Homo sapiens: one gene and its partners. The protein of the gene in region 6 interacts with the protein of the main gene of each other region in a biochemical or structural test. Each region holds a gene or a part of one and is shown on either strand. Other genes may lie near its edges. The genes, in order: GLI3, HNRNPC, KPNA1, ADAP1, CHRM3, CSNK1A1 and ZRANB1.

Region 1 (4,193 bases), on a different chromosome or scaffold from region 6:
AACTCATGTCCCCGATAGCCATGTTGGTGGTGCTCATGGACAGCGCTGGGAATGGGAGGGACGCCCGAGGCGTGGTGAGGCGGGAGGAGCTATGGGAAAGGTTCTGAATGATACTTGGGCTCAGGGCCCCCGACATCAGGCTGGAGTGGTCCCCATCGTCTATGATGGCATCGAAGTCAATCTGTACCCCTTCCAGGTCATGGCTGTCGAGGCTGTCCACTGTGCTTGTCACCTGATTAGCACCTGGGGAAAGTAACTCAGAGTTTTTGGCGCTGGTCCCCTGTAGCAGGCAGCTGGCGTCTGAAATAGAGAATGAACCAGCTTTCGTGTCTTGCTGACTGAAGCCCACGGTTTGGTCATAGAACTGACCAGAGTAATTCTGCAGATTAGAGCACAGCGGATGGGGCTGCCCTTTCATCTCCATCTTGATACCATTCACCCTGCAGGTCTGACTTGTGTCACTGAGCTGTCCTGACTGCAGAGCAAGGCTGTCCCTCGGCATAGCCTGGCGCCTGCTGCCCCCAAAGCTGGCACATGGCTGGTAGCCCCTGACAACTGCCAAGCTTGACGGCTGGCTGCCCATGCCGTGAGCCCCTGGCAGGCAGCTCTCTGGCCCTTGGTAGATGTTGATGTGTGAGGTAGCACTAATCTGCCCAAGCATCTGCTGACCGGGGCGGCCTGCCCCCGGGTGCTGCATGCTGTCGCCGAGGAGCTGGTGAGCCAGGTACCCCTGTCCCACTGGGTCCTGGTTCTGCATGCCATTCACCATGCTGCCAGCTGACTCATTTGGCGCTACCGGCAGGCCGAAATTCAGCTGGCCCCCGCTCCCTTGCATGGGGGTGCTCTTCAGCTTTGAGGCTTGAATCCCGGCACCACAGGCACCGTCGAGTGCACCAGGGGCCACTGGCTGCCTGTTGAGACAGTTCCCATACTGCGGGGCCTTACAGGGCTGTTCATGGAAGGCGTTTCCACTGGTGCCACTTCCGGGGCTGTTGTGGAGCATCAAGTGCTCTGGGCCACCGTAGGGGTTGCTGTTCTCCCCGAGGGTCTGATAGCCCCCAGCAGGCCCGCTCCTCAAGGGGTTCTGCGGGTGGACGACCATGCCGTTGCAGAACCCAAAGGCGCGAGTCTGCGGCACAGCGGGCCGCGGCCCACACTTGAGCTTGGAGGAGGACAGGTCGGCGCTTCCGGAGCTGACTTCGTTCCACTGAATGGGCAGGTCGGTTTTGCTGCCCTCGGGGCAGGGCTGCTCGAGGGCATGGAACTGCTGGCCAGCGTGGCTGTCTGGCAGCCCGGGCGCGTCAAAGTCACCGGGCCCGTGGGGCACTTTGCTGTCGTCCGGGAGGGCGCTGGGGAAGTGCTGCTCGTACCCTGCTTGGTTCTGGGAATTTAAATACTGCACCACGTCGTCCGGCAGGAAATCCTCATCGTTCAGGTTGGCATCAGCGTCCATGGTCAGGGACTCCAGGGTGACGTTCTCGGTGATGCTGGGAGGACAGGGGGACGAGTGGAAGTTTCGGGACTGGCCGCCCTCGGGCCGCGTGTAATTCTGAAGCACGAGACTGCGCTTCTCCGCGGACGTGGCCATCGCCGGGGGGTTGCAGCTGCTGAGGCTGCTGAAGCGCGGCACACGAGGCAGGGCCAGGCCCTCGGAGCCTGTCCGCACCGGGTCGCTGGCCCTCCTCACGCCGTGGCCCGGCGCATCGTGCGGCTGCAGGTGGCGCCGCCCGTAGCCGTGGGCTCCCCCGTCGCTGCACCTCCTCGGGGCATGAACTGGAGGCAGGGCCACGCCAGGCTCGAGGGCATCCCCGAGCAGCGCCAGGCGCGTCTTCAGGCTCATCCTCTCCATGTTGGGCAGGGGCGTCGGCGGCGGCCCTCCTGTGGCAGCCGCGTACTTGGCCTTGAGGCGGTACTGCTGGGCGGGCGTGAGGCTGAGCAGGCTGGGCAGGCCGTCGCTCTGGCTGGCTTCGCTGGAGCGGCGCGAGGCGTCGGTGGAGATGGGGTCGTAGGAGTCGGCCACGCTCACGTTCTGCGGCCGGCCCTCGGCCTGTGACGCCTCGCTGGAGCGGCGGCTGGAGAAGCAGGGCGAGATCCCTGAGGAGCGGCGGCTGCTCAGGTAGGCCGAGCTGATGGTGCTGGCGCTGCTGTCCCTTCTGTTGAGCATGTTCAGCATAGTGACGTCCACCCCAGAGAGGTCGCTTCTGCCCGGGAGAAGCGTCATGGGCCCACCCAAGCTGCAGGTGTTGTTGGACTGTGTGCCTGGAGACAGAGAAAGGGAGAGACCATGCGGAGATGAATTCCCTTCGAGCATGACTTACACCAGGCATGAGCAACCCTTTTCTGTAAAGGGCCAGCTAGGAACTATTTCTGGTGTCCCAGGCCACATTGCCTGCCTCACAACTACTCAGCTCTGCAGTGTAGCCCCAACACGGCCACAGAGAGCAGTGAGCAAGCAAGCGTGGCGGGGTGTCCATGAAGCTTCCTTTACAAAAACAGGGGCGGCTGGAGATGGCCGCAGGCTGTAGTTTGCTGATGCCTGGCTTAAACAAAACAATAACAACTCCCTCGATTCACTGAAGCCCCTCCCCAAGCGCTGTGCAAGGACAAAAAGAATCTTGTGATGGTACACAACGCTTGAGTTCCAGGCAAGTCCCCAGGCAAAGGTACTCCACGAGTTTCACATTCACGCTCAGGGCGTCCTGTTCATGCCACATCCTACCAACAGGTAACACCTGTGTTGGTGCAGGCAAGAGCTTCACCCCTTAGGTGCTCTCAGAAGTGTAATCTCAGAAGTGCAAACTGACCTGGGGACTGACAGTGGGGAGGGATTTCTGACTTTCCTTGAACTGGGTAAATATAAATAAAAGTGGCTGCTAACCTCGTGGTTTTAAATTTTGGAAACCAGAGACAGAGTTCCAACCACAGATGCCTCCACTGCTGGCATTCCCTTACCCTAATCTAACAGTTATGATTTCACCATCAGAATATGAGTCATGCACAGTCACATTTTTTTCTCAATATTATCCTGTTCCTAGCTGTTTTTAAAATATGGACAATCCCAAAAGGCAACTTGAATGGGCTAAACATTAACGGATGGTTACAGCGTCATTTTAGGACTGGTGGAGAAACTAGCAAACATAAAACTGAGGGCCTGCATTTAAAAGAACAGAAAAAAAAACCCTGAGCAGATGCATGGTCTGATGTAGAACTCACCATTTCCTATGAGAGGAGAGACCGCAGGGGCTTTAGGGGGTAGAATGGGGTTCAGTCGCGGAAACATTCCATTCACTTGTTTTAGCCTTTCTAGTTTTACGTGCTCCATCCATTTGGTCCCTGCCGGGTTTCTCCTGGCTTGCAAAGCAAGGGCTGTGGTTGCAGTGGAAATGGTTGAGTCCATGATTGGGGTTTCATCGATGGCACTGAGGTCTCCTATACTACCTCCATCGGTCAGAGGAAGCTCGAGCCCACTGTTGGAATAGTTGCTGATGGGGGACTGTTGGCTGCTGCATGAAGACTGACCACCAGGGCTTGGCTGAGATGTCTGTTGGGGTCAAGTGGAAAGGAAAGAAATGTCACCAGGGAGGGTCAAGGAAAGGGAGCCAATAATGAGAGCTCATGCATATCGAGATCTTCAAGATCATCAGTTGGTTGAATGAGAAGAAAAACTATGTTCTGGTGAATGGAGCTGGCCACTTTTGGCCAGAATGACGGATGGACCACCAGGCTGATGGGCAACAGGAGGCAATGGAAAGCAGAGAATGCTAGCTGCAGTGTGACTGGCATGGTATCAGCCATGGAATCCTGCCCCAATCGCCAACTCTGCAGACATACTTCCTCGGTTCCAATCCCATCTCCACCACTTTATTCTTTGGGCACATTACTTAGCCACTCTAAACCTCAGTTTCCTTATCTATAAAACAGGGACCATTTATTTCAGGGATTGTTGTGAGGAATTAAGTGTGAAGCCCAGAGAGCACACAAGTATAAAAAGACCTGGATAATAGCAATTGGTTCACAGGATGTTAGCAATTATTATGATCCCGGGTGGTTTTAGTCTTGAGGTTCATTTTGCTCAGCTGAAACATAAATGTAAGATATGCGCCATCAGCACACATTACCTCCTCCAACAAGAGCCCCTCTAGGCTGTTCAGGGCTGGTTAGCCAAGCTCTTTGTAACCTCTCCTCCCTCCTTC
Region 2 (4,193 bases), on a different chromosome or scaffold from region 6:
CAAACCTAATATATTGTTGTCTATTGAAAATCTGAAGAGGCCACCAATTTCTGTGAAGATATTTCTGCAAACGTGATTTCTTTAGATTTCTCTGCAGTATATATCTCATTGTCTCAACTAATGTTTTCCAAATTCCCTGCTCAAATTTTCAAATTTCCCCATTCACAATGTGCCTTGCCAAGAAAAGACTTTTTAATGAGAACTATTTTCAAGAAGACTGTCACTGTATACTGCTAAAACTTGATACACTCATAAAAAACATCAACTAAGAGTCCATGACATCCCTGAAATTATACCAACAAAAGTGTGAGTTTATTAAACTGGTCTGAATTGAGCCATGACAAAGAAATAGGATAATAATACACAGAAACACAACCACGTCCTTAATCTTTTATTAATGATTCTCAACTCTGACTGGACAAAAGAACACATAGAAAGCACTGAAAAATATACTAGTACTTAAGAAAGTCTGCATAAGACCAGTTGTGTAAGAATCCCTATAGGAGAAGCTGGCATGAGTATATTTTAAATGTGGTCAAGCAATTACCATGTGCAGAAAGGGTTAAAGGGCAGATGCTTCAGACAAACTCACTGGGTTTCAGTGCCTTCAAGACACCTGACCAATAATTAACCCATCTATGCCTAATGTTCCATTACTGGAATGCTAAGCTTGTCGGAGTTATTTATATCCTACTGCATTAGGTCATTACCAAGGTCTGATTGCAAAAATTCAAAAAATTGCAATTTCAGGAATAAATGGGCTGAGTTCACTAGTAATGTCCTGATTTATTTTCAACTGGAAGTTCTCCATTGATTTTTATTTTGTTTTATTTTTTGAGAAGGAGTCTCACTCTGTCACCCAGGCTGGAGTGCAGTGGCGCGATCTCAACTCACTGAAACCTCCACCTCCCGGGATCAAGCAATTCTCCTACATCATCCTCCTGAGTAGCTGGGACTACAGGCGCGTGCCACCACGCCCAGCTAATTTTTGTATTTTTTTAGTAGAGACGGGGTTCCACCATATTGCCCAGGCTGGTCTTGAACTCCTGACCTCATGATCCACCTGCCTTGGCCTCACAAAGTGCTGAGATTACAGGTGTGAGCCACCGTGCCCAGCTGATTTTTATTTTTTAAGAATTTCAAAAATTTCAACAAAAATAAAAATGAAGAATTACAGAACTCCTTAGTTTTCAAAATGTTCACACATAACTGTAAAAATCTGAGGAAAGGGCTGGACACAGTGGCTCACACCTGTAATCCCAGCACTTTGGGAGGTCAAGGCGAGTAGATCACCTCAGTTCAGGAGTTCGAGACCAGCCTGGCCAACATGGTGAAACCCAGCCTCTACTAAAAATACAAAAATTAGCCGGGAGTGGTGGTGCATGCCTGTAACCCCAGCTACTTGGGAGGCTGAGGCAGGAGAATTGCTTCAACCAAAGAGGCGTATGTTGCAGTGAGCCAAAATCACGCCACTTCACTCCAGCCTGGTGACGAGAGGAAAATTCCGTATTTAAAAAAAAAAAAAAAAAAAATCAGGCCAGGCGTGGTGGCTCACGCCTGTAATCCCAGCACTTTGGGAGGCCAAGACGGACGGATCATGAGGTCAGGAGATCGAGATCATCCTGGCTAACACGATGAAGCCCCGTCTCTACTAAAAATACAAAAAATTAGCCGGGTGTGGTGGCGGGCGCCTGTAGTCCCAGCTACTCAGGAGGCTGTGCCAGGAGGCGCAGCTTGCAGTGAGCCAAGATTGCGCCACTGCACTCCAGGATGGGCGACAGAGCGAGACTGTCTCAAAAAAAAAAAAAAAAAAATCTGAGGAAACCGCTAATGTCAAATGAAAAAAACATTTTGATGATGCATTAATGATGCTCAACCACACCATTTTATTATGGCATTCAAGGCCCTTTACAATCTGGATTTGAATTCCTTTTCGGGCCTTACTCTTCTGGCCTTCTAATGACTACGTACCATATTCTGTGAGGTTATTTCTCAAACAGAAAGTCTATACTTTCATGTCTGACACTTTCAGTGTATACTTTATGGTATTTAACGGCTGACTTGATTCCTTTACAACTCCCATGCATGACTGATTAACTCAGTTCAAATGTTAAGCATTCCCCAATCAGTAATTTTTATTCCAAAATCAGACTGAATTGTTATATACAGTAATAACATTAAAATACTAATGACTGGAATACTGGCATTATAAGACAAATAGTATATAAAGTAATATGCTTTATATATTGCATGTTTAAAGTCTATTGCATACAATAGTTTGCTCCATATACTTACATATACTGCATGAGTTTGAACGCGACAAGCCAAATAAGTCTTAACATTTCCTTCATGTTAACTGAGACTGATGTTATCAGAATGTCAATGTGGTAACACTCTTAAGCACATCATCCTATTTCCTGTTAAGCATTTGCTATCAACAGTTCTAAATCTGTTACCCAAAGCCACCCATAACCCAGTCCCTAGTCACCACACTCAGCGAATTTTTTTGTATTTTTAGTAGAAACGGGTTTCACCACGTTAGCCAGGGATTATGAAATAATGCATTAAAATCAGTATCACCCTACCTAATAATCTACTTAATGATTTAGAAAAAGGTGTTTTTTTGTTTTGGAGTTAGGGGAGTATGTTTGAAAACATCTTTGATGTTCATCACCACAAACCAGAAGAACGAAATGGTTCTCACTAAATAGCTGTTTAGCAGAAATACAAAACATTTTAACATACCTATCATAATAGTCCCGTTGAAAGTCATAGTCCAAGTCAAAAGAGGAGCTGAAAAATAAATACCGAAAAGGGTTAATTTGGAAATGTTTCTACTAATTCACAATGTCAGGTGAGGGGAGAACCATGCCAAATAAACCACAACAAATAGATCAACAAGATTAGCACTGAATGATCCCCAATCATTCATACAATAAATCACTCAATTCCAATCACCTTAGACCACTGGAAATGTAGCGGTCAAATTGGAAATTCAGGTTAAAATTCGCTAAGATTTCCACATACGACATAGCTAAACTAAACACTGAAAAACAGAATGGTAAACTAAGCATTCTTATACCACACTTCTACCCTCTCTTACTCTCTAGTGTCTTAGAAGCTCAACGATCCTGTATAAGTATTTCAGGTTATGCTATAAATATCAAACTACTCTTTAATATCAATAGCAAAAACCTCAGGGATTTTTAATTCTCTAGAAATTTTCTCTAGGGCAAAAAAGAGACATATTAACACAAAAATAATAAAACCTTATTTATACACAGATAAAACACAGTACACTTAAACCTCCCCACACCCAGAAAACAGAAAGAGAAGATGCCCACTGATGGACACAATGCAGTTATAAATAATAAAGTTCCGGACCTGAGTAGAGGGGACGGAGAAGGGTGTTCTGTTACTGACCCGTACATCTCCGCTGCAGATCGTTTCACACCTGCTTTTCCTCGGTTCACTTTTGGCTCTGCAGCCAGGTTAATATCTGAAAAACAAAAGTAAAAATGTTAATGACAACTTTGTATCCGGGTAAAACAAACTACAAAGTTTATTTTTTTTATTTTTGAGACATAGTTTCGCTTTCTCGCTCAGGCTGGAGTGCAGTGGTGTCACCTTGGCTCACTGAAACCTCTACCTCCCGGTTCAAGCGATTCTCCTGCCTCAGCCTCGAGAGTAACTGTCACTACAGGCGGGCACCACCATGCCCAGCTAATACAAACTACGAAGTTTAGAAAATCACACAGACACATAAATTAGAAAATGTGGAACAAAACAACTCATCTTTCCTTAAGACACTGTCTCACTGTCATACAAGCTGGAGTGCAGTGATGCAATAATGGCTCAATACAGCCTAGACCTCCGAAGCTCAGGTGATCCTCCCACCCAAGTAGCAGGGACCACCACGCCTGGTTAATTTTTCTATTTTTCGTAGGGACGAACTCTTGGGGTCACGTGATCTGCCTTGACCTCCCAAAGTGCTGGAATCACAGGTGTGAGCTATCAAGCTCAGCTTCATCTCTCCTTTTAATATTAAAAAGGCTCACAAATTTTTACAAGGCTAAGGCTTCATCTTCCGTTTCTTTGTAGTCTGTTCTTTACCATTCAAGTGTTCCTGAGACTAACATTAAGTCTGTCTTTGGTACTCTCCACCCTCAGATACCACTTCAACTCAACTCTCC
Region 3 (4,193 bases), on a different chromosome or scaffold from region 6:
TTCACACTTGCCAGCTCCCAAAGACACGAGCCACTTTCTTAAACTAAATTTCTTTCTCTCATTGGTTCTGTTTCTCTGGAGAACCCTAATACAATCCATAAAACACTTTATATTCACTTAACACTCTCTTCTTAAAAAAATTGGAAAGACTGGCTTTCTGAAGGGCCTAGAAACTTTCATCACAAAATGATGGCATTGGCTATGTCTGTATGAATTCCAAAGGAAATAATACTACCCTCCCAACTCTCAAAGAAAGCTGGTTCATGTAAACTGGAGATCTATGAAATGAAATAAAAATAAAAACTACAAAATACTATGAATAGTATGCCACCATTTACCAAAAAAAAAGGTGGGGGAGAGGAGAACATTTTAATATACAAAAGTTCTCAGAAAGAATAAATAGGAATTTAGTAATACTAGTTGCCAATGGAGAAAAATACTAGGTGGCTAAGCGGAAGAAAGATTTTTCTTCATTTTTTTTAATTGTACTTTTTTTGTTACTACAAACAACAGTACCTTTTAGGAGATAATTTTCTTTTTAAAAAAACTGTGTGTGTGTACACATATATATATATGTACACATATATAACCTATTTTTAAAATTACGTAATTACAATACTCTAGAAATCTAGATAGGTCTAATCCATACAAATAAAGCATGACTTTTATCTCTTCATGTTAACTTCAAAAAAGTAACAAAATGGTTTACAACAGAAAAATCCAAGAGTTCTGATGTGGAATCAAGTTTTTAAATCATACAAACAGGTCAATTTTGTAAATCAATAAAAAATCATTATTTTCTTTAAAGTATCTCTTATGGCTTGGTGTGATGGCTCAAGCTTGTAATTCTAGCACTTTGGGAGGCCAAGGCAAAAGGATCACTTGAGGCCAGGAGTTCACCTGGGCAACACAGTGAGATCCTGTCTCCACAAAAAATTTAAAAATTTGCCAGTCATGGTGGCACATGCCTGTAGTCCCAGCTATTTGGGAGGCTAAAGCAGGAGGATCACTTAAGCCCAGGAGTTCGAGGTTGCAGTGACCTACGATTGCGCCACTGCACTCCAACCTGGGCAACACAGCAAGACCCTGTCTCTAAAACATAAATAAATAAATAAATAAATAAATAAATAAATAAATAAATAAATAAGGTGTCTATTCTTATTCAACTTTTAAAGAGTAATTTTATCTTATAATTAGCTTGTTAAGTTTTTAGAGCAGAATTAATCTTTATAATTTAACTGCACTTTATCCAAAATATAATAAACATTTAATGAACCATGAGATTAAGCATATTCTTTTTAAAAATGAAATGCCAAGTACTTTTTGTAGCCATCTAACCTTTTTTAAAACTCAAAAGGAAATCTACATCTCATATCTTCATCACAAAAACACTGAAAAGAGTTCATTATCTTACTGGTGCCATCTCCATGTTACTAATCTGAGCCTCATGAAAGCCTCCATCTGACATAACTTCTTCTTCTGTTTCTTCTTCTGCTGTAGCAACATTTCTCCGCTTGAATAACTGAAAGATAAAAGATTGGTAGCAATGTAAATGTAAATTCTAACACAAGGGAGTTCAACATTCAAATACTAGGCACCCCATTCAAAGTGAAGTCTTTGAAAATCATTTTTAAAATTCTAAAGCTGTCAGCTTTTACTGATGAGTAACCATTTCAGATTTCTCCATAGTCTTATAATCAAATATAATTAACTATTACAACATGCTATAAACAACACTTGATAATGTAAAACTTACTAAGAGAGGTCTGACACTATATGACATTAAAAAAAAAAAGGTTGGAAAAAGGAGCTGGGTCATGCTTGGCCATTTTCCTCATCCCTTTATGTAAAGTATACATCAGGACAGTCCTAACAATGTACCAAGGAAAATGAAAATAAAAACTATGTTCAAATGACTTAATACTTCCCTCCTAATCTCCAAAGATGGTGGACTGTGGCTTCTGACCTTCCCAACCTATCCAGCAACCAGTGGCAACAAATGATGACTGCTTAAGCACTACCTTTAAAGCAGCTCCGTTAATGTGTATAGGCAAAGGAGACTAGTTCTCTCCAAAGTCAGCCAACGAGGGTGATTACCATTATATCCTTATGAATCCTGGGCAGCACATTTATTCATCAAGCCATGATGGAGTAACAGTAACTTACCCTCTCTCACGCTGAACAACTAAAAACAGACAAAATACATAAAATAATGTTTCAGCCATTGGACAATAAAAACCACAGAGTAGTGATATCTCAGAAAGAAAAACCCAAGATAAGCCCCAATACTGCCTCAGATTACTATGCAGACAGTTCCAGGCTGCAGTGCAGGAAAGGTAAACTCAACCAGAGTTTAGATGCTCCTTGGATTTGAGAAAACACAGTTCAGAGCTGAGAAGGCCAAGAGACCTAAAATTCATAACGCAGAGTACAACACAAAAAGAACACCCAAGATCTACAGGAGGTTCTCTCTGAGATTTAACTTAATACTAATCAGCACATAATCATATTCTTTCAGAAGACAGAAGCAGAGACAGTACTTCTCAACTCATTCTAGGAGATCAGCATTACTCTTAATACCAAAACCACCTACCAAAGGCCTATTTAACAGTAGTTTCTTTTACCCAGTACATGTCCAGCTATCAAGAAAAAATTACAAGGCATACTAAAATATAAAAAACACATTTTGAAGAGACAGAGCAAGTATCAGAACCAGATTCAGCCACGGCAGTGATGTTGAGATTATCGGACCAAGAATTTAAAACTACGATTAATATGCTAAGGGCTTTAAATGGATAAAGTGGACAGCATACAAGAACAGATAGGCAATGTAAGGAGAGAGATGGAAATTCTAAAAAAGAACTAAAAAGAAATGCAAGAGATCAACAACAACAGAAATGAAGAATGCCTTTGATCGACTTTTTAGTAAACAAGACACAGCTAAGGAAATAATCTCTGAGCTTAAGGAAATCTCATTCGAAATCTTTAAAACTGAAAAGAAAACAGAAAAAGGACTGACACAAATAGAACAGAGTATCTATGAACTGAAACAACTACAAATGGTATAATAAACATGGAATGGAACTATCAGGAGGAGAGGAAAGAACAAAAGAAATATTTGACACAATAATGACTGAGAATTTCCCCCAAATTAGTATCAGACACCAAACTGTAGCAGGCCATGTCTCATTAATGCAGGGCTCCATAACAACTGTTTCAGTACTGACTGACTGGTTAAGTTAAATATTAAAAGCTAAAAAAAGCCAGTGCCCTTATACAAAGGCTGGAATCTAACAAAAGCCCACCAAGAGTTTTGCCTAGGCCTTTCCTGGGCCTTAAAGCATAACAAAGAAATTCCCCAGGCCTCCACAAACAAGTTTATTGGATGTCTGAAAGAACTCCCCAAACCTCCACGAGCAGGAGACAAGATAAGGGTAATCACCTCAGCACCTAGATTAAGTAAATTTACTGAGACTCCAGAGGAAGGTCTTCAAGACTCAGACCTTAGTTACAGATTAAAAGAAGTTTCATCACTTATGTCTTTAGATGAATACACACTTACACGCAGACATATAGCTTAAAAGGTATATAATATCTGGAAAACTTTGTAATTTCGAGTTGGTCTGGCAATAATTTCTAGGCCTTCTCCCTGTAACCAGGTACAAAAATAAAAACTCTCTTCCTCCCCAGTTCATCTGCATCTTGTTATTGGGCCATGAGAAACAGCAGCCCAACCCAGTTTGGTCTGGGAACAAAACCACTGGAAGCCCAGAGAACACCAAGCTGGACAAAGGCCAAAAAAATCCCACTACACCTAGGGATATCATTTTCAAACAACAGAAAATCAGAAATAAAGGAAAAACAATCCTAAAAGACAAGGGTAAAAACACTGTACTTAACACATGAATAAAGATAAGAATGATAACCACACATGCCAGAAGAAAGTGAAGTGAAATATTTGAAGTGTTGAGAGAGAAAACCACCAACCTAGAAACTCTGAACCTTGCAAAATCATCCTTCAAAAGTGGAAACAAAAATAAAGATTTTTTTCAGAATACTAAGGAAATTTATTGTCAGTAGACCTGCTTTGCAAGAAATGTTAAACGAAATTCTTTGGCAAAAAGGAAATGATACAGGTCAGAAACTTGGATCTACATAAAGGAAGAACATCAAAGAATGAATAAGTGAATGTA
Region 4 (3,334 bases), on a different chromosome or scaffold from region 6:
AAGCAGAGGCAGAAATGTGGATCCTGCGGAGGCTAAGCCAGGCCTGGGCCCTGACCTGGTGGCCCGGGGTGAGGGGAGCACAGAGGGGCACAGCCAGGGAGGGGCTCGGCCTGAGCTGCACTTCTGAGGTCCCCTGCCTGGTGTGTCCTGCCCTAGCTGGTGCCAAAGCTCTCCAGGAACTACCTGAAGGAAGGCTACATGGAGAAGACGGGGCCCAAGGTGGGTGTGCCGCACGTGCGGCCTGGGGTGGCCTGGGGTACGCCATGGTGGGTCTCGGACTGAAGTGCAGCAGCCTTGCCAGCTGCCGCCTGTGTTTTAAACTGGTGTCTGGTGGGTCCTCACAGCCCCTTGTCTGTGCCTGGCCGGGGTCCCCGAGGACTCGGGCCACTGTCCTAGGCTTTGGTTAGACCCTCCCTGCCCGCTCACGTCTGACCAGCTTCCTCACCCACGGGACCGTGCACCTGCGCGGCCAGGGGCCCACATCTTGCCATTCCCTGAGGCATAATGTGGGAGGGAGACACAAATCCTGGGAGTCTTGGTGGTCCCGGAGGAGAAGTGCAGGTGTGAGGGCTCGTAAGTGAGGCCTGGGCCCCCATCTGGGGCCCAGGGAGGGCTGGGGGACCTGGAGGAGCAGGAGGGAGGTGCCGTGTGGAGGCTGGAGGACAGGCGTGTGCGGAGGCCTCGTGGGGCGTGGCCAGCGGCAGGCGTGAGTGAATGGAGGTGACTGACCCGGGCCAGTCTGGGCCCTGCCCTCCGGGGTGTGCTGTGGTCAGCTGGATGTAGGGCCTGCCTCGGCGACCTGCCGGTCACGGGCCCTCTCTGACCCACAGCAAACGGAAGGCTTCCGGAAGCGCTGGTTCACCATGGATGACCGCAGGCTCATGTACTTCAAAGACCCCCTGGTAAGGAGGAGCTGTGGCCCCAGCACGGGAGGGCAGCTCACTGGCTGGGGTTGCCAGATGCGTGACCAGGAGGGCGGGTGGCCTCCCGAGTCCTGGCCTGAGTGAAGCGGGGCTGGAAGGGACATGGCCCCGCCTCCAGTGCGGTCCCCACCCACAGGACGCCTTCGCCCGAGGGGAAGTCTTCATTGGCAGCAAGGAGAGTGGCTACACGGTGCTGCATGGGTTCCCGCCGTCCACCCAGGGCCACCACTGGCCACATGGCATCACCATCGTCACGCCCGACCGCAAGTTTCTGTTTGCCTGCGAGACGGAGTCCGACCAGAGGGAGTGGGTGGCGGCCTTCCAGAAGGCGGTGGACAGGCCCATGCTGCCCCAGGAGTACGCAGGTGAGGGGGGCGGGCGGCCGGCGGCCTGGAAGGGCTCCCAGCTCCCCGCCGCTGTGACAACGCTGGACCCTGTTCCGTTGCAGTGGAGGCGCACTTCAAGCATAAACCTTAGCGAGTGCGGCTGGAGGACCACGGACATTGGACTCACTGTGGCTGGACGGAGGGGACCCGTGGATGGGGGGGCTCTGGCGTCCTGAGGCCACCTGGCCCCACCTGCTCCTCAGGGCAGCCCGGCGCGGCCAGGTAGGGCCCGAGCTTCAGCTTCCAGGATGCTTCTCTGGAACCTCAAGGCAGGCAGCCCAGGCCCTGGGCCTGATCTCTAACCCCGTCATGCTGCTGCTGACCACACCCAGCCAACCTGCCCCTCCCTGACCCGGGGCCCCCTTTCCTCCAGGGCCCAGTCTGGCTCCCGAGCTCAGACACAGCCCCCAGGAGCCGCCCACCACGGCTGTGGGAACTTCCAGGCCTCAGCGCAGAGCCCTGCTTGGGGCCAGCACGGTGGGCAGCTGCCGGCCGCTGGGGACTGGGCCCTGCTCGCATGCCGCCCCGCCCTCCCCCCACCTCCACGACTATTTATTGAGCGCCTGTTGTGTGTCACGGGGCTATGAGGGCCGTGGGGTGTTTGGGTGGATTATCCACACAGGTCCCGGCCCCTGCCCGGGCTGGAGTTGCCACAGCCTGTGCTCCTGGTCCTCACCTGGAGGGGCCAGCAGGCTGCCGTCCCACCACACGTGGCCTCTGCGCCCAGCACGGTGCTCGCCGACAGTGGTGTCTGAACCCTTGGGGACGAGGGCCTGGGCCGCGGTGAGGCCACCAGAGGCAGGAGTGGCCCTGGGGGTCCCGGGCACTGTCGCGCTTGCTGCAGGCGGCCCAGCCGTGTATTTATTTTTCACCTATCTCCTTCCTGTCAAGGCAGGCCGGGCTCCAGGGCTCCCCTTGCGTGGGGCATGTAGGTGGGGGAGGCGTCTGCAGGTCACCTGGGGGGCCCAGCCCTCTCCCAGCCTTGCCTGGCTGAGCTGTGTTCCAGGGGAGCCCTGGACAAGCCCTCATAGGCAGGGAGGGGGTTTCCGAGGCCAGGCATCCGCCGCCCCGTGTCGCATCCTGGAATAAAATGTGGCTCTGGCATGGTTCCAGCTGTGTGTCCGAGGATGGAGTGGGGAGGAAGTTGGGCTGGGAACACGTGGCCCTGCCTCCCTGGCTTCAGGAGAATCTTCGTCTGCTCCCAGGGACCTGACAGGGCCCTCGCTCCCTGAGGTTTGGAGGGAGGACACGGTGTCTGAGCTAGTCACAGCGCCATGCTCCTTGTACACGGGAGACGGTCCCTACCCGAGGTGCCCCCCAGCACCCCTTCCCCAGGTGCCCCCCTTCCCCAGGTGCCCCCTCCATCTGAGGCCCGCCAGGCAGTTCCTGGGCAGAGTCCACAGCCTGAAAGCCAAGCCAAGCTCAGCATGAAGGACAGTGTGGGGGATGCATCCCGGGTCGGGGGTCCCCTGTGCCTGCCAGCCCACCCCCCCAATGCTGGGCCCCTCAGCCCTCACACAGAACATGCTGAATCCCACTTCTCCAATGAGGAGCTGGGACTCTAGGGCGGAGTAGAGGTCTCCCAATCCCAGCCTAGGGGTCCCCAAGGCAGCTGTGCTGGTGACGAGGATGTGGGCGAGGTACCCCCACTTGGAGCTGAAACCCCAGGCAAGTGCCCCGCAACCTCACCAGGTGCCACGGTCCTAACCCGAGGTGAGAGGAGTGGGCCTGGGTCAGGGAGAGCCCTGGGCTGTGCTGGACACACCCCCGGGGGAAACCAGCAGTGCCCACAGCCCTCCCCATGGCGTGGAAGTGTGGGCACGTGCTCAGTGTGTGCGTGTCCCCGAATGTGCACGTGTCCACGTGTGTGCTGAGGACACTGACGACTGTCACATTTTAAAAACCACAGAACAACTTTCTAATGGGGGGAAAGAATTTTTTGAACCAGGGGAGGTGGCGCAGGCACAGAAGGTGGTCGCTCACTCGCTGTCCACACCTCCCCGCGTGGACACAGCTGTGGGGAAG
Region 5 (4,193 bases), on a different chromosome or scaffold from region 6:
AGACTTCCTGTAGGTCCCCTCACCAATATCATTCAATTCAATGAGTGTAGACTGTGAACTTCCTTGACTCAAAATATCCTAATGCTATGGAATAGCTGTTGAGTCAGGATGAGGAAGGAATATTAAACATAGGAATGATACCTTCTACTCAGAAAATCACCGTAAACTGAGGGCTCTTAGCCCGGGGTTATCACTGCTTCATTTGGGTCTGACCTACAGTCTTGATTCTCAGGAAGTTACATATTACCTATGAAATAATAGATATACCTGAAGTAAAACATTTGGTGACTCTCATTTCTAATAAGTACTTTTAGATATTCTTTTTTTTTTTTTTTTTTGAAATCCTTATGACCGGCTGATCACTTTCTCCTGTTGTCATCCTGGGTACCGATAGGACCTCCGTTGCTGAGCCTCCAGAGAACAGTCCTTTTAATGAGGCCGTGGCCCCAAGGCCTCGGAGAAGTTCATAGAAAATGTCTGAAAGAAGGTGGGAGGGATCTTGTTTCCTGGCCCTATAGGGACATTGTCTTCCTTGATAAAGCTGGGTACAGCCTTGATATGAATAGATTGGGGAGCACCAGGAATGTACCTCACCTGGGCTGTCGAGAAAAGACAGTGTGCTCAGAAGAGGTATGGCAGGTGCTGAATATTCCCTTGGAGGGACGAAGGCAAGAAAGGCCCCTACAGCAATGAGGGGAGAAAATCCACAACCCAAGTAGAACTAGGATTTCTTATGTGTGAGACAATACATTGCTCATTTACATGTAAAGTGTGTATAATATTTTTAATCCATCGTATTCAGGCGAGCAAGATCAGTCATTTCATTTTTGTATAACTTGCCTCGAAGCTGCCTGTTGTGGCCCCATTCTGCATAGCAAATCACCACAAACTTAGCAGCTTACAACAAGGTTCCCTGTTCAGGGTCTCAACACTGAAATCAAGGTGTTCGCCCAGCTGAGTTTACGTCTTAGGCAAGACTAAGGAAGAATTCATTACCACAGGCATTCAGGTCATCGGTGCTTCTGCCATGGTGACCTAGTGACCTCTGAGCAGCTGCCACCTCTGGGCACCAGACAGGAGGGCATGAGGCACGCATCTTCTTTGAGTCTGATCAATATTATCAGATGCGACCTCTTTTTCCTCCAACCTTCTCCGCATTTAAAAGCAACAGCAGAGTGTAAGGCAAGATTCCAAGCCCTCCTTGGCAACCATCACCAATATCTGCCCCCTTTTAACTCTCTTCTTCACTTCCTTCTGGCTTCGGAAACTTTGGGATTTTTTTTTTTTTCCTCATTCGGGACATTACAGATTGAGCTGAAGTCTTCTTTGTCCATCACCCTCAATCCTAATTTTATCTTCCTCCTCCAAAATACCACTGCTAATATATGATTTGCATGTAAATCTTTCTATCCTTCTATGACAATTTTAATTATATTAATATACTAAAGGTGGTATCTGTCTATATGTCTGTATACAACCTTTAGTATACAGGCATGTACAATCTTTAGTATACTATTGCTGTGTTTTATTGTAAACTAAATTTTATCGTGTTGTATTTGTCATCCCACAACTTGCCTTTCTTACTTAACAAAGTATTTTTAGATGGTTCTAAGTTAATATATATCTAGTTGATTGCTTTTATCTGCTGCATAGTATTCCCTTTTATGAATGACCTCATTTTTGAATTCATTTCAAAACGAATGGTCTTATAGATTTTCCTCATTTTTGTCATAAAAATAAATGCTTCAGTTAATAGCCTTGGGCGTGTCTCCTTGTGTACATACGAATGCAATAATTTCTAGAGGGTAGATACCTAGCAGTTGGATTGCTAGTTCATGGTGTACATGCCTTTTCAGTTTTAATTAATACTTCCAAATCACCTTTTTGTAGTACTTATTATCAATTTATTCACTCTGGATGTGGCAAGGGGAGATTTTTCTTATTTTCCTAGTGTGTAGGTCAGTATACCATGCATTGATGCTCAGAAGACCAAGTGTTTGCAGTTTCAAAGCCCTTATCTTTAAATCCCTTCTCTCTACCAGAGTATTTAAAATCTACTTTAAAAAGCAAAAAATGAGGAAACACTGGTTTCTTTCTCCCTGTGTTTCTAAAGTAACAACACAACCCTGAGAACACAAAAAGTTAGCATTGGGAGAAGGGAGGCAAGATCCCCGTTAATACTTCAGAGTATTAGCCTACAACACCACAATGCTTCTTATCTTCTCCATAATCTACAGATCAGGCGATAGTATTCTAGTTTTATAGATGAAGAAAGGTCGTCTCAAAATAGTCAAGTAATTTGGTAAGTTTATACATCTCCTGGGCCAACCCAGAACTCAGACCCAAATCAGCAAAACTCCAAAGAAAGACCACAGCTTTTCAACTCTGCTCTATTGCTTTCTAATAAAAAAAATTAATGACGATGAGAACATCATCTTTATTAATAGAGTGGTATTAATGTATCTCATCACATCAGAACCCCAAATGAGTACCCACGACTTCCTAAACATTTCTGTCTTCGTAGCTAGAAGTCACAGTGGGTTTTAGTAGTGTGCTTTGCTTAAAATTTCTGCTTCCCATTCAAAAGGCTTTATTTTCCTCAAAGTTATGTTCATATACCACATTCCCTTCTTTTCTCGTTGCTTTAATATCTGAGGTTCTTAGAAGGAAACCCAAGGGTAGCATTAGGACTGCCATGGTTATTGACTATTAACTCGTTAACTTATTAACTCTTGTCCTTTGGATGTTGTATCACATGGGTAAGCAAATGCCTATAAGTCATTTCCCTCTAATGGTTCTTGTCTACCTTTAAAATTTTTGCTCATCTCATACTGCACATCTATTGCATGACAGAAAAGGACTGGAACATTTTTAAATAAGGAAAAGCACATCTCTGAGAATTTCAGAAACGTATTAGATATTGAATGAATGTCAAAGTGTAAGAAGAATGATGGCCAATGGTAGATATGACAAAGAGTACAGGTCAAAGATAAACAGGTATTTAATTAACCTAATATAGAGAGCTAAACTCACCTATAGCTGACTTTCCTCAATTCTGGCTTCTTTCATTTTCTGTATTCAAACAAAGCATAATTGGACTAGAATACTATTCATTTGGGGGGGCTCTTCAGATTCACAGGATGAAATGAACTAAAAGAAAACAACTGACCTTAGGCTAATTTCGAAAATTTTTACTTATATTCTTCAACAATATAGGTCAACTGAGCAAATTAAATTGCTGTTGAATGTATACAAACATAATGTGATTATCCACAGAGAGTAATTTGATATTGCCTAAATAACTTTGTGTTTTTAAAAATCTTTTATTTGTATTCCATCTCTTACCTGGGGGTGAGTTTATGAAATGCAGAGGCTGTGGAATCCCTGAATTCCACAGCACCAGTCACCATAATCTAAAGCTAGCAGTGGTTAAATGAGCTTGTGCTGATATTGACAAAGACAGAACACCTTTTAGTTGCAGGTGACAGAAAGTATCTCTGGTAGCCCAGGCAACAAAGGAAAGGCAAGGTCAAGGAGGTGGTGTTCACCTCAGGAGTGGCTAAATTCAGGTTTCAAAGGACATCATCATCATGCTGTCTCTGTTTCCCATACTCCCTCCCATCTCTCTCCTTCCTTCATGCCTTTCCTCTATGTTTGCTTACTCTAGATTTCCCATGTGGTGGCAAATAGGGTGATCAGCACCTAGTAATTCCAAATATAAGAGAATCACTGTCTCATTCCAACATCCACATCAAATCTCCAAATCAACCCTCCTGCCTGGGTCTTCTTCATGTTCATTGTTGTGGTAGAGGAGCGAGGACCATCTGATTGATGCCTGTCCCAAACTACATACTGTGGGTGACAGGCTATTTCCAAAAAGACAGCTGAAAGAAAGACAAATAGTAGATACCCACTGCATGGCTTTAACCAACAAAGATGAAAGAAGAAAGAAGTATCATCAGCACAAATATGAATATAGCATCGGGATGATTGGGCATTACATTATTTATAATAAAACCAGCATGGCATAAGTCCTGAAAATGGGGCTACAGGACATGATTACCTCCCATGGGACATGAAAGCAGAGACCTAGATAGTAGAAATGAGGAAACGTAGCTGCTGTGTTCAGGAATCTCAGGAGTGAAGGAGATTTCAGAAAGAGAAAGGCCCTTCAGAGTACATGAGAAATAAAC
Region 6 (4,193 bases):
CAGAGACGGGGTTTCACCATGTTGGCCAGGCTGGTCTCGAGCTCCTGGCCTCAGGTGATCCACCCCCATCGGCCTCCCAAAGTGCTAGGATTATAGGTGTGAGCCATTGCACCTGGCAGATTACTTGAATTCTTTGTTTTTCTCTTTTGAGACAGAGCCTCATTGTCACCCAGGTTGGAGTGCACTGGGGGGATCTCAGCTGACTGCAACCTCCGCTTCCCAGGTTCAAGAGATTCTCCTGCCTCAGCCTCCCGAGTCGCTGGGATTAAAGGTGAGCACCACCTCACCCGGCTAATTTTTGTATTTTTAGTAAAGATGGGGCTTCACCATGTCGGGCAGGCTGGTCTCTAACTCCTGACCTCAAGCGATCTGCCCGCCTCGGCCTCCCAAAGTGCTGGGATTACAGGCGTGAGCCACCGTACCTGGGCGGATTACCTCAATTCTTACTCTCTTCCAACTAAGAGTTTGAGCCACATGTAATCTATTCCCCCCCCTTTTTCAAGACCAGTTCTGGGTTGTGCCTAAGGAACCCTACCCTAGTTTAGGACTGCTACCACTTGATCAGACTCCATGACTATGTGATATTTTAATTGCTTTTTATTTGGTACTGTACAAAGTTGGAGAGTTCCAGAAGGCACTGACAGCCACTTATATCTAATATGAATTATAACTATTCTGGAAAAGTTACATTCTACTTTGAGTATGATTCAACTCTCTATCCACTCCAAACTAAAATCACCTATTTACACTACAAATAGAAAAATGCCAAATTAGTCCCAAATAAATCAGTTTCTGAAACCTTTTATTCATGTTAGCTAGATCTGCTTTACTTTAGTATTTATCAGAATGAATTTGTTAGGTAAATTTAACCAATTTCCCTCACAGAGTTTATAATCTTAAAATACCTTAAAAACTGACCTGAAAAGAATGCGGAATAGCTGCCTCAGATACATGTAATCTGGGGCTTCCTCAAAGCGTAGCCCACGACAATAGTTTAAGTACATCGCAAATTCTGCAGGAAACCCCTATAGGTTCAAGGGTTAAAACAAAGTTAAAAACAAACATTTCAAGATAGAAAAATAAATGCATTTAAGTATAAGCAAAAAGATATTTTTGGGCGGGATATTTTACCATTTCATAGGAAGATATGAGAGCTAAAATGATGGCTTGGTCTCCTCATAAATTTAAATAAAATTTCATGACCCTACCTACCCTATTATGTACAATATTAGTAGAAGAAATACATATGTTCTTCCCATATAGTGCTTTTCCTATACAGTACTATGTTCTTAAATAACTTACATAGCCCACTTGTTAAAACCTGTCATTTTATCAAAGTCGCGCCTCTTCGTGAACTTTTTTTTTTTTTAAAGACAGGGTCTCAATCTGTCTCCCAGGCTGGAGTGCAGTAGTGTAATCTCAGCTTACTGCAACCTCCACCTCCCAGGCTTCAAGCGATCCTCCAACCTCAGCTTCCTGAGTAGCTGGGACTACAGACACGAGCTACCACGCCCAGCTAATTTTTTGTATTTTTTAGTAGAGACAGGGTTTTGTCAGATTGCCAAGGATGGTCTCAAATTCCCGAGCTCAAGAGATCTGCCCCCCTTGGCCTCCTTGGTCTCCCACAGTGCTGGGATTACAGGTGTGAGCCACCATGCCCAGCCTTCAGAAGTTTCTAAATGGTTGCATGATATTCTACCTAGTATATACATCATTAACTTGTTCTTTATAATTGAACATTTGGATGTATTCTAATTTTTCTCTATTATTAATAATACTGCTAAGTACATCTGTGGGCATAGAATTTTTCCATTTAGCTCCTTAGGAAAGATTCTCAACAATGTATAAACATTTTCAAGGCTCTAGGTATCAGTCACCAAAAGGATTTCCCCAATCAGCAATGTGGAAATACAAAATATTAAAAGAGCACAAACCTCTATATCTCCTCTCCTAGAGTAAATGCCAATGTGGAGAGTGGTAAAGTTAAAGGAGGCAGTCTCTTTCTACAACCTTATGATTGTAGAGTTAAAGTTACAATCTCTTTCTACAACCTTATGAGAAATTTCTCATGTCCTGGAGTTAGGAAGGATAGAATGGAAATGCTTGCAACATTTTTTATTGATTGCACCGATATAAATTGGGTGACCACTTGAAACATATACATATGTTAAAAGATGTAAAATAATACATATTATACATCTTTCTAAAACTCAACATTTATATACATTTATGGCCCGTGTTAATGGTAAACAGTATGACAATGAGACTGAAAACAATCTCACCACTTTATAATTACTATTTTAACTCTCACTGATTTCTTCCCTCAACTATTTATTTGTATACTGCTTTGTACTTAATTTCAGGTATACAATTCTTTCTTGTCTGAAAGACCATATGGCCTTCTTTTTATGGATGAGATCATGGTTATTCATCATGACACAAATACCTCTCTATTCTAAACTCAATTGCCTTTCTATGAAGTTGAAAATTTCAGAAAAAATGAGTGTGATTCAAACTGTCTTCTGTATTCCTGTATTGTTGGACAGCTGCTATTTTGGATTGCTCCAATCTGTCTGCATGTTTCCCTGTTCCTTAATGTACTAATTGTTGATAACCTTTCTTTTCCAGCACTAGTTTAGGGTAAGGAGAATATTTCTTACTTTTTCTTATAGATTAATGAGGTTCTATTGAAAATGTTTACCTGCCCTGTTTATTTACCCCTAGTTTTCAACAGATTAGAGAGCCCTAACAAACCAGAAACATAAAACACTTATTTTACTTACTTAAAACGTTTATTTAACTTATTTTTTATTATTTTACTTATTTTTGTTGTTGTTGAGACAGGGTCTCACTCTGTCACCCAAGCTGGACTGCAGTGGTGCAATCTTGGCTCACTGCAGCCTCGACCTCCTGGGCTCAAGCATCCTGCCCCAGCATCCCCAAGAAGCTGAGATTACAGGCATGCGTCACCATGCCAGGCTAATTTTTGCATTTTTTGTAGCGATGGGGTTTCACCATGTTGCCTAGACTGGTCTGGAACTCCCGGGCTCAAGCGATCCACCCTCCTTCAGCCTACCAAGTGGCTCCTCAACTGTGAGCCACTGTGCCTAGCAAAACACTTATTTAAAAAGACCCCTATGTTAAAAGTCCTTGTTAAAGATATTTAGAATAATAAAAATGTAAATTTAAAATGGTGAATAGCTACCTAATTCAATGTTACAAGTTCCAGAGCTGGCAAATAAAATGTTCCTTTTTCTTCCTGGATCATTCATTCATTCACTCATTTGAGACAGAGTCTTACTCTGTTACCTAGGCTGGAGTGCAGTGGCACAATCTCAGATCCTTGCAAGACAGCCAAGATTCACCACTGCAATTGGAGCCTCCCGGGCTCAAGTGATCCTCCTGCCTCAGGCTCCTGAGTAGCTGGGACCACAGACGTGTATCACTGCACCCAGCTAATTTTTGTATTTTTGGTAGATAAGGTATTTCACCATGTTGCCCAGGCTGGTCTTGTGGAACTTCTGGGCTCAAGTGATCCGCCCACCTCGGCCTTCTAAAGTGCTGGGATTGCAGGCTTGAGCCACTGTGCCCAGCCGGATCATTTATCTATTAAGGTAGAAATGGGGTTTCCCTATGTTGCCCAGGCTGGTCTTGAACTCCTGGGCTCATGTGACCTACTGCCTTGGCCTCCCAAAGTGCTGGGATTACAGGTGTGAGCCATTGTGCCTGGCTTCATTTATATTTTTTTAATATTCATCATGCATACTTACCTTACATAAAACTTCAACAGGCGTGGACATCTTCTTTTCACTAATCTTTTCATATTTTTGTTTCTTTGTTGCAGCCTGTGGAAAAGAATAAAATAAAAAAGATATACTCAGTGCTACTGAGAAGAACCATGGTAGTTTAACGCACTAGACATATAAACATATACCTGTGAGATTCAAGAGAAATTTTAACCCAGAATTTAAAAAATCAAAGTATAATACATCTAAAAAAAATTTTTCCCAAACTGTTAACTTCTGATGTAAGTTTCTTCTCTAAGAATTTAATTTTAGCTATAGGGAAAGGGTGAGTCTAATAGGAATATATGGATATTAGATTTAAGTAAAAATGGCTGGGGCCAAAATTGAAAAGCATTTTCTTTCTTTCTATATATTTTTTTAAGGAGATGGGGTCTCACTATGTTGCCC
Region 7 (4,193 bases), on a different chromosome or scaffold from region 6:
GAAACCCCATCTCTACTAAAAATACAAAAAATTAGCCAGGTATGGTGGCGCCACCTGTAATCCCAGCTACTTCGAAGGCTGAGGCACGAGAATTGCTTGAACCCGGGAGGCAGAGGTTGCAGTGAGCCGAGATCATGCCACTGCACTCCAGCCTGGGCGACAGAGTAAGACTCTGCCTCAAAAAAAAAAAAAAAAAAAAAAAAGGAAATTACCACCAAAGAAAAGATTACTGGCTGCCTTTTTAGAGAGAACCTGCAAAGTGGTAGATTTACCACAGTTCAAACCTGGCTTTCCATCTTACAGGGCAGAGTGACATTAACCAAAACTACAAGGCAGACCTGTGAAACCACAATGCCAAGAACCCACTGTCTTAGGAACCAAACCAGGTTCATCCTCTTGACATAGACAGGCCCATAGCAGTGGTCAAGAAAATCAGCAGTAGGAAGCTAAGAAAATCAGCAACAGGAAGCTGCTTGGTGACCACAGGATCTGATCAAGAGGGCCAGACCGGCAGAGCACTGACCAGCATCAGGCTTACCCAGCCCGATGAACCTACTTCATACTACCAGACAGCCATCTCCACTAAGAGGCACAAAAGAGCCCTCTCTCCAGGACAATTACTAATTGACTAAAACTACCGGAGTGACACATTCATTCTTTAGCTTTATTATACATCCAGTCAGGTCATCCAGGAAGTTATTTTATTTCTCTAATGTGCCCACAAATTGTTACTCTATTACGTTATGCTTCCCCCTCCGCTCCCCACAAGACAGTCTCACTCTGTCACCCAGGCTGGAGTGCTGTGGCACGATCTTGGCTCGCTGCAACCTCCTCTTCCTCCTGGATTTAAGCAATTCTCGTGCCTCAGCTTCCTGAATAGCTGGGATTATAGGCATGCACCACCACACCTGGCTAATTTTTGTATTTTTAGTAGAGACAGGGTTTCAACAAGTTGGCCAGGCTGGTCTTGAACTCCTGGCCTCAAATGATCTGCCTGCCTCAGCCTCCCAAAGCAATAGGATTGCAGGCATGAGCCACAAACCCCAGCCATACTGCATTATGCTTTGATCTACAATTTAGCTCTCAAGAAAGTAATTTATAGGCCGGGCACGGTGGCTCATGCCTGTAATAACTAAATGAGATAATGTTCAAAGAACCAAAAAAATACCACATAAGTCAAACAAATGTAAAGACTGAACTATTCATTCACAAAAACAATTATTTTTCCAGTGATTGCATGCTGTTAAAAAATATATATATAAAGAACACTTTGATACAATTGAAGAAATGTGATTATGAACTGTTAGATAACAGAATCAATGTTGAATTACTTAGATGTAGGAATGGGGATGTGGGTGAGTAGGACAATATTCTTATTCTGGAAAGATGTATGTTGATATTTTGAAGGGTAAAGCATCATGATGTCTACAACGAATTGACCCACGAGTCTTTCTGTATGGAGACATGGAGCAGGTGTGGCAAAATGTTAATAACTGCTCAACTGAATGAAGAAAATACCAGGATCTATTGCACTGAATTTTTTTAAAATTATTCCATGGGTTTGAAAATTTGCAAAATAAAAAATGTGATCTTAAGACTCCCTCAGGAAGGAAAAAAACTTGTAACACAATGTCAAGATAACCTCTTATGTGAACACAAATATTCAATAAGGCTGGGTGCGGCAGCTCAGGCCTGTCATCCAAGCACTTTGGGGGCCCCAGGCAGGCGGATCGCTTGAGATCAGGATTATCAAAGCCACCCTGGGAAAGATGGCAAAACTCCATCTCTACCAAAAATACATAAAACAGCCAGGCATGGTGATGAGCACCTGTAGTTCTAGCTACTCAGGAGGCTGAGGTGGATGGATGGCTTGAGCCCAGGAGGTGGAGGATGCAGTGGGCCAAGACTGCACCACTGCACTCCAGCACAGCAATTGAGCCAGACCCTGCTTCCATCGATGGATCAATCAATCAATCAGTCAATCAATCCCTAAAAAGATGAGCAACGGCCTTATCAATATTTAAGGCTACTATATATAACTTGAAATGCTGCATTTGAAATGTTCAAATATACTGCCTGTGTCTTATAGAAACAATAAATGCTTGCATTTTAAAGCTTCAAATGTTTCTATTTTAAAATTTAGCAAAAAAATGTATAAAAACCATTGATTCTTGCTTTTATCTCATTTCTTGGGGGAAAAACAAAAACAGAAACCATGGACGTGTTCAAAGTATTTTAATGTCCAAAATGAACTGTTTTTCCTCCAGTTTCCATAGAAAATATAACTGACATAAAAAGTATCCCACCACTACAAGGAAATAATCCAGCAAATGCACTCCTGGGTTGAAACAGGGCAGAATGCCAGCTCACCAATGTGAACAGTCATGCAGGCTGTCATGCAGGGCTTTCCGAAGCACTGAGTCCTTGTCATAGATGCCCCAGGTAGCTTGTAGAACTGAATCAAGTAGGCAGTCTCCTGCAGTCCGGTTCCAAAGTGCATACAGTCGACTGTCCAAACGTGTAGCCAATTCCAAGGACCAGTTAATAATTGGAGATTCTTCTTCTAATTCTGTACGATGGATTTAAATACATGTTCATTTCCATACCTATGTCATTAGAGAATACTCATGGGGAGAAGAACCTATTTTCTAGCTATAAAATGGTTTATATGTAATTTACCAATAAACACCTAAATAAAATTGACCAATTGAAATATAAACTTTTGAGTACTTGAAACATCTTCTGTCTCTAGAATAATTTAATAAACTTTTAAATTCTTTACAGTTTTATTTTCTAAAAAGTGTTTCATATAGAAATATATACATTCTGGAACAGGAAGCGGAGAACCAAGGTTTTAAAATTTTTGTATCTTTATTTGTTCACTCTGTAACAGTGAACCATACAATATAACACTGAACTTCAGGACTTTACGTCTTTAATTTAAAATAAAAATAAAGCAAGTTGACTACACACCAAACTACACCATGCCTTACTAAACAAAACTTACTTGATCAGATGAAAGGTAAATTATACTCATTAATTCCATGCTTACCTTTTTGAACGTCTCTATCAAGCACCTCATCAAATAATTTTTCTTGGACTGTTGGGGGCAAATCTTCAATATCTACAAAGAAAATGCAAACTTAAAAGATCTTTTGTTTCATAACTTACACTTAACTTATACTTAATTACACTTATTAATTACCTACTAGTAACTTTCTCTAAAATAACTCCCTTTCCATTGAAGGTTATCAGATAGCTTTTTCTTAATATACCAGTGTAACATGTGTGATATAAAATATTTCTTTTCTGGGCCGGGTGCAATGGCTCACGCCTATAATTCCAGCACTTTGGGAGGCTGAGGCCAGCATACTGCTTGAACTCAGGATTCTGAGCCCAGCCTGGGCAACACGGCAAAACCCTGTCTCTATACAAAAAATATACAAAAATTAATCAGACAAGGCAGCAGACACCTGTGTCCCAGCTACTCAGGAGGCTACGGTGAGAGAACTGTTTGAGCCTGGGGAGGCCAAGGCTGCAATGAGCCGTGATCCTGCCACCGCACTCCAGCCTAGGCGATAGAGTAAGACCCTGTCTCAAAAAATAAAAATAAAAAATAAATTTTTAAAAATCTAATCATTCTGGGGTAAGCTTAAATACTCAGAACAAGTGCATTTCAAATGAAACTTCCTCCAGTTTCAGAAAACTTAGTTACTATCTCCTACAATTTGTAAAAATCCGTTTGTCTGAACATAAAAATTAAAAACACTGAGATCTAGCCTGAGTAATACTGCGAGACTCCATCTCTACAAAAAAATTAAAAATTAGCCAGGGGTGGGTGGCATGTGCCTATAGTCCTAGCTACTCAGGAGGTCAAGGCAGGAGATCACTTGAGCCCAGAAGTTGAAGGCGCAGTAAGCTATGATCACGCCCATTGCACTCTAGCCTGGGCAACAGAGCAAGACCCCGTTTCAATCTAAAAAAAAAAAAAACAGCAACAAAACAAACAGATCTCAGAATCTCAGATGAAAGATTTTAGAAACGTTTGGTGTTTGGTGTATTTATTCAATGCCAACTGACAAAACGCATTCTGGAGGATGTTTTCAACTGTCAATGAATTGAAAAATGAAAAGTTCCTTCACAAACATAGTAGAAATAAATGAGTAAAAAAGGAATGACATATTCAAGAGGAT

Evidence for each region.
Region 1: of the proteins of CSNK1A1 (region 6) and GLI3, one has a biochemical effect on the other in vitro, tested with the Homo sapiens proteins (one study listed by BioGRID).
Region 2: of the proteins of CSNK1A1 (region 6) and HNRNPC, one has a biochemical effect on the other in vitro, tested with the Homo sapiens proteins (one study listed by BioGRID).
Region 3: the proteins of CSNK1A1 (region 6) and KPNA1 form a complex in vitro, tested with the Homo sapiens proteins (one study listed by IntAct).
Region 4: the proteins of CSNK1A1 (region 6) and ADAP1 form a complex in vitro, tested with the Homo sapiens proteins (one study listed by BioGRID).
Region 5: the proteins of CSNK1A1 (region 6) and CHRM3 form a complex in vitro, tested with the Homo sapiens proteins (one study listed by BioGRID).
Region 7: of the proteins of CSNK1A1 (region 6) and ZRANB1, one has a biochemical effect on the other in vitro, tested with the Homo sapiens proteins (one study listed by BioGRID).

What each region holds. Positions count from the first base shown.
Region 1 is NC_000007.14:41,964,383-41,968,575, forward strand, and holds part of GLI3 (transcriptional activator GLI3), read right to left. Parts: intron 3,542-4,193; coding exon 3,214-3,541; intron 2,260-3,213; coding exon 1-2,259. UniProt on the Homo sapiens protein: Has a dual function as a transcriptional activator and a repressor of the sonic hedgehog (Shh) pathway, and plays a role in limb development.
Region 2 is NC_000014.9:21,227,574-21,231,766, forward strand, and holds part of HNRNPC (heterogeneous nuclear ribonucleoproteins C1/C2), read right to left. Parts: intron 3,500-4,193; coding exon 3,424-3,499; coding exon of another isoform or gene 3,385-3,423; intron 2,794-3,384; coding exon 2,746-2,793; intron 1-2,745. UniProt on the Homo sapiens protein: Binds pre-mRNA and nucleates the assembly of 40S hnRNP particles. Interacts with poly-U tracts in the 3'-UTR or 5'-UTR of mRNA and modulates the stability and the level of translation of bound mRNA molecules. Single HNRNPC tetramers bind 230-240 nucleotides.
Region 3 is NC_000003.12:122,465,908-122,470,100, forward strand, and holds part of KPNA1 (importin subunit alpha-5), read right to left. Parts: intron 1,523-4,193; coding exon 1,415-1,522; intron 1-1,414. UniProt on the Homo sapiens protein: Functions in nuclear protein import as an adapter protein for nuclear receptor KPNB1. Binds specifically and directly to substrates containing either a simple or bipartite NLS motif.
Region 4 is NC_000007.14:896,987-900,320, reverse strand, and holds the end of ADAP1 (arf-GAP with dual PH domain-containing protein 1), read left to right. Parts: intron 1-156; coding exon 157-219; intron 220-830; coding exon 831-902; intron 903-1,059; coding exon 1,060-1,288; intron 1,289-1,371; coding exon 1,372-1,400; 3' UTR 1,401-2,421; downstream 2,422-3,334. UniProt on the Homo sapiens protein: GTPase-activating protein for the ADP ribosylation factor family. Binds phosphatidylinositol 3,4,5-trisphosphate (PtdInsP3) and inositol 1,3,4,5-tetrakisphosphate (InsP4). Regulates the incorporation of CD63 and CD9 into multivesicular bodies.
Region 5 is NC_000001.11:239,900,058-239,904,250, forward strand, and holds part of CHRM3 (muscarinic acetylcholine receptor M3), read left to right. Parts: intron 1-4,193.
Region 6 is NC_000005.10:149,506,109-149,510,301, forward strand, and holds part of CSNK1A1 (casein kinase I isoform alpha), read right to left. Parts: intron 3,846-4,193; coding exon 3,771-3,845; intron 1,026-3,770; coding exon 919-1,025; intron 1-918.
Region 7 is NC_000010.11:124,972,576-124,976,768, reverse strand, and holds part of ZRANB1 (ubiquitin thioesterase ZRANB1), read right to left. Parts: intron 3,125-4,193; coding exon 3,053-3,124; intron 2,570-3,052; coding exon 2,371-2,569; intron 1-2,370. UniProt on the Homo sapiens protein: Ubiquitin thioesterase, which specifically hydrolyzes 'Lys-29'-linked and 'Lys-33'-linked diubiquitin. Also cleaves 'Lys-63'-linked chains, but with 40-fold less efficiency compared to 'Lys-29'-linked ones.